Regions from separate parts of the Homo sapiens genome. Here region 1 is linked to region 2. Evidence: fine-mapped expression QTL. Tissue or cell type: whole blood. Region 2 holds a variant in brackets; the other region holds the start of a gene. All regions are shown on one strand. Distances are between the middles of the regions.

Region 1 (2,764 bases), 220 kb before region 2:
TTCCATTTTGCAGATTGGTTACACTGCGCTTGCAGATTGGTTACACTGCGCTTTGCATTTCCTTTGCTATACTGCCATCCAGGAAGAGGGCTGGCTACACAATAGAATATTTTATATTACAAAATATTCTGGACATTTCCTAAGTAATTGGCCTGCTATTTTATCTTATATTCATTGTGACTGTGTACACAGTCAGATTTTTCCCTCTCACTTTGCCCAATGAAAAGATTGGAAGCAAATTTGTGTCTGTCTGGAGCTATGATACTGGACCTTAGTTATGACTTTTGTTGGCTTTTTTCTTGATCCCATTGTATTTATTTTTTATTTTTTCCTACCCATTTTCAATTGGAGTTGTCTTGTTGGAATATGTACCCTTTTAAGCACCTCAAGTTTCCTTTCAAACTGGACAGGCAATAGACACATAACTAATTTTTAACACTATTCACACATTTCTGTTAGACTGAAGCAGATTGTGCAGTGGAAATACTAGGCCTTTGGAGGGAGTCACACTTGGGTTTAAATTCCAGCTTTGACACTTAATAACTGTGGACCTTGGACAAATTATTTAACCTTTCTGAGTTCCCTCTCTGTAAAATGGAAATAATAATCCATAACTCACAAAGATGTCTTGGGGATTAAATAAAATAACTCATGCAAATTACTTGGTGCATAGTAGGCATTCAATAAATGTCAGTTCACTTCTCTTCCCAGTTAATAATGCTTATTAGACTATATTAAAAACTAGAACTAGACTGTGATAATGCATTTCTTTATTAGGTATTTAAGCCAAATAACTAATTTCCCCCGGGGGAAGAGAGAGAAATGTTGAATTAGTTTCATTTGGTGAACTTATTTATTAATCTTTCTTTTTCTTGAGCATTTTTCAGTTTCATAGTCCATAATTTAGTTTTCATGCAGCAAAAATGACACAGTTTGGTATTCTTTTCACCTTTACTGTGCTAGAATTGTTTTTTTAAATGTATCTATTATTACATCTGCCACTTATTAGAGATCTTTATTAATTATATTAACAGCTCGATTGTGTTTCATAACTACGTCGTGCTGACAAACTTGTGCTCTCAGCAGTTTCCCTGAGGTCTAAGCATTTAAAAGAATCAAGTTTTAAATGACAATGCCACAGCAAAAGAAAAGCAGGGGTGGGCGGGAAGACGCACACCGTCTGTGTTCTTTCGTGTTAATTTTATATGTTTGCATTTAAGTGGAGCCACATTTTCCTCAAGGACGCAACCTAAGTAAGGCGAGCAGGGAAAGTGGAAACTAAGTGAGCTGGAACTACAGTACCATTGCACCTTTAAGGACTGGAGACTTGCTATTAGCTCGGCCTCCTTCCCGGCCCACCTCTGAACTCTGATTGACAGGGCGCCGGGCGAGGAGGAGCTGAAGGAGGCTGGAGAGGAGGCGCCGTGAGGAAAGTAGGGGAGGAGGGGGCCGGTCCTTTATCTGGTGGCCAATCAGGGAAGCGGGGAGGAGCTCCAGGCGCCCTCCTCCCTCCTCCTCTCCCCAGCCTCCCGGCTTCCCCGCCCCCTCCCCTTCCCTTTGCCCCCTCCCCTCTCCTCCTTCTCGTCCTCCTCCTCCTTCTTCTCCTCCTCCTCCTCCTCCTCTCAGGCTGTGGTTTTTCTGTATATGTTTCTGGAGTCCTGAGCCTGAGCTAAACAAAAGCAGGAGGCTGACGGGGCTGCTGGAGTTTGCAGAGACACGGAGGAGGAGAGAGCCTGTGCTTTGCCTGCCGCCGCGGCTGGGGGAGATCTGGCTTTTGCAACAGCCCACCCCCTTTGAGATCACTCTGGCCCGGAGTGGGGGTGGGGGGCAGCGGGGGGTGGGGGGGGAAAGTTTGCATTGCAATCCCCCTGCCTTCCTCTCCTTTCTCCCGATCAATGCATATTTGCAAAAGGATTAAGCCACAGATTTAAGCGCCGGGAGCCCATTTCTGCCTTGCAAAGGAGACCGGACTGAAAAACCTAAAGCCAGCTCTGATTTCTTTTCGCCAAGTGGGAAGGTGGTTTATTTTTCTTGCTTTTTGGAGTCAACACCCTTCCCCACCAGCCCTTATCCCCACCCTCACCCCGCAACCCCTTCACGCCCCCTCCCCCTCCCCCTCCTCATCCTCCCACCATCCTCTAAAGAGGCAAAGGGATTTTTTTTTTCTTTTGGTCTTCTTTTTTCCCCCTTCCCTGTTTATCCTGAAAAGGATTTGAAGACAAGCTTGAAGGATAAAAAGCCTTGGTGCTTCCCAGGAGCCGAGCCGAGGAGCAGAAGAGGAAGAGCCGGGGGCTGCCGTAGCCTTTGGAGATGGACGAGCAGCCCAGGCTGATGCATTCCCATGCTGGGGTCGGGATGGCCGGACACCCCGGCCTGTCCCAGCACTTGCAGGATGGGGCCGGAGGGACCGAGGGGGAGGGCGGGAGGAAGCAGGACATTGGAGACATTTTACAGCAAATTATGACCATCACAGACCAGAGTTTGGATGAGGCGCAGGCCAGGTGAGATGGAGGCTTTTCTTTTCCTTTCTTGGGGTTTTTTGTTTTTCTTCCTCTTGCAGGGGGAAACAATGGGAACCGAATCACCACAGCGCTTTTTTTGAAAAATGTTATTTCTTTTCTCATTTTGACAAGCAACTACATGGCGGAGGAGTAAAATTTGAAGGAGCGTTGTTATCGAAAGTGTAATCGCCCATGCCGAGATGTGGCTGTGTACATATTTGTGTGTGTGTGTGTGAATATAGGGGTATTCATTTATATCCACA
Region 2 (2,764 bases):
AACACTGCTGACACACGGTATATCTTCATGTGTACCAGCAATCAGACTGTAGTCAATTAAATTGTTTTGAAAATTAGGTTTATGCACTTATCAGTTGTTTGAGAGTCTGGCAGTTTTGGCCTTAAGAGTTCCCTGTCAAAGACTATGGCGTGAAAGATCACTGCTTTCAGGCTTCTATGCTGTGATTAAATGTGGAGAGTGGTTTTGGGGACATGTGTCTTAAGGGATAAGCTAGTGAGGAATAGGTTGGGACTGGTAGGACGAGCGGCCTGTGGCACATTTCAGAGCCCTCAACCGTACCCCACACTGCATGGGCCATGACTCTCTCTTCACCCATGGATCATCTCTAGAGGGGATTCATGATGTCACCTGGAGTCTCTGCTCTCTCCAAGTGTACTGGAAAGGATTGGGTGTTGGGAAGGCATTGGAAAGCTGGTATTAGAAGAGTTAGCTGGGGAGAGATTTGACTGAAGAGAAGGAAGCGTGTTTGCAGTGTTAACGCAGTGGATCTGCCTCAAGAGGCCCAGAACTTAAGAAAGCCAGGAAGCTATTTTTCTACGACTCCCCATGTTAGTGAAGGCAATTTTTTAACGTGATATCCACTTTGAATTCTTTGATCTTTAAGAAATATGAGTAAGAGAAAAGGATAGATGGCAAGATAGATGAGGAACTTCAGAGGGGGCTAAGATTACTTTAAGGGAAAGCTAATGAGTTGTTGAATTGTTTTACATAGTGGGGTGCTATGAATAGGATGTTAAGGAAAGTTCTTCACAAATAAATGACAGAATAAAAAAAAAATAAACCTAACATAAGACAATTTTCTTTTTCAGCAAGGCACAGGGTTCTTTGGGAAGCTTCAAAAAATTCAAAAGTCATAGTGCCTTTTTTCATGGAATTCACTAAGTAGAGACTTTTTTGTAGGCATATCATTAAATGCTGGACTCTCAAGTTTTCGAAATGAGAAGTCTCCATCTGGGAGGTATAAAAGGAAACCCCCATCTGGTTGGTTTTAGCATCTTCAAGGTGAGGATACAATTCTTAAAATTGTCTACCTATTTCTGAGTCCTGGTTCAAATTCCTTTGTGATGTCTATGTCAGCTGGGACCCTGTAGGCCCCACTGAGTTGCACATCACCAAGTGTGCCCATCACTGTGGTTAGAGGCCGTGGGCTGTGTACTACAGACAATGCTGTAATTGCTTCTGTGACCAAGTGAGGGCGGAGTTTGCCCTTTATGTGATGTAGGCAATATTCTATTTTTAATAAGCCAGAAAAATCTGTTCAAATCCAGTAACTTCAAGATTTTCCAAAGACTGGAAGATGTGGAGGACGTGGGCATCAGCTGGAATCTGATTTCTCTCCCCTCCACACTTGCTCTTCCCCATTTCTCAACTGCTGTCTCCCAGTGTAATTACCATCTCAAGCATTTTCTGTTCGTCCCCTGTAGGTACACCACATCGTGCCAACAACCCATGGCCCAGCAGGAATATACAGTAGCCTTTGCCAGGGTCCACCAGGGCTTGATTACACTTCACGGCTGTAATTCAAGCCTGCTAATCCTCCTCTG[C/T]GTTCGGAAAAGAGGCCTGTTCTGTTAGATAAGCTGATTACTGTCTGGTGTGTGCTTCATGCCTAGCAAGAGTTGTTTATATGTGGAATTATTGCTGGCTGGGCTCTGTGCTTCGCTACACCGAGGAAGCTCGCTTAGGGGTCAGGGGTGTCAGGCTTCACCTCTGATCTGGGAGGGGTGAGAAGTGGAGTGTTGATTACAGCTGTTTTTCTCTCAACCTCTGTGCTGGTGGCTAAATATTTACTTTTCTCTGTTAACGGAAGGAGCCAGATAAGATTTTAAGAGTCTGAGACTTTTGCCCCTAGGACCCACTGTCAAAGATCATAGAGTGAAAGATCACTGCCCCAGACTTGCCACATTCTGATTAGGTTTGCAAGGCGATCTTAGTGGTCTTTTTGTCTTTAGGGCTACGTTAGGGAGGACTATGGCGGGACAAGTTGAGTGTGTGGTGAAATCAACAGCCACAGATTGAAGAGTGCCCGACCACAGGGAAAGGATGCCCGCAGAGACCATGTGAATGCTTTCTCACACTCAAAGATGTTTTCTTCAAAGCCACAGAAGCCTTGAAACCACCTTTGCCTCTGCCTACCAGCCCATCTCTGGTCTGGTGTGGAGCTTGTGGCTTGGGTGCAGTCTACGAAGCCCTTGCTCTTCATGGAGGAGGAAGTGCATTTTGTTATAACCGTCTGCCCAGTGATGTTGGCGTGATTTATGCTGGCTGCACTCTCAGGATTCCCATCCCTTTTGCGGGGTATTTTGTCCCCAGATGCAGAGCTGAGGTTCTGCTTAATACTGGCTTTTAAGTGTTTAAGCCCTACAAATGGCTATTCGGTTTAATGGTGTAAGGATGGGGTGAGTGCTGAAACAAGTACAGGTAAACACAAGCACCTGGCCCTTGTCACCTGCTGCATGGGCATACATTGGGGTCTGTTTGTATATTTGAATATGTGGCAGTCTACACTGGAGTAAGGAAATAAGGATGAATGTCAAAAGGCTTAATTGTGATGATATCACAATTGAGGCCATTTGTTGAGTAAACTTCCTCCACATCTCTGTATACTAATAATCGGTTTGTCAGCTTTTCTCTATGACACTATCATTTCCTTTAGGGCAGGCACTTTGTCTTTCATTTCTGTGACCGTTACCTGTCTGGCCCATAGTAACCAATCAAGGAATGGGTCTTTGATTTAGTGTATGAA

What was found. PIP is the estimated chance that this variant, and not a neighbour inherited with it, causes the effect.
Region 1: PBX1 starts here. The variant in region 2 is fine-mapped to the expression of PBX1 in whole blood (TOPMed, PIP above 0.99).

The regions. Positions count from the first base shown.
Region 1 is chr1:164,557,513-164,560,276 of GRCh38, forward strand. It overlaps PBX1 (PBX homeobox 1), which reads left to right and starts at 1,672. Exons shown (of 9, transcript NM_002585.4): 1 at 1,672-2,501. The coding sequence starts at 2,311. RefSeq lists an enhancer at 1,254-1,753.
Region 2 is chr1:164,773,377-164,776,140 of GRCh38, forward strand. All of the region lies in intron 2 of PBX1 (PBX homeobox 1), which reads left to right. It overlaps PBX1-AS1 (PBX1 antisense RNA 1), which reads right to left and starts at 1,265. Exons shown (of 4, transcript NR_038072.1): 1 at 1,053-1,265. The variant C/T (reference allele first, on the strand shown) is at 1,566.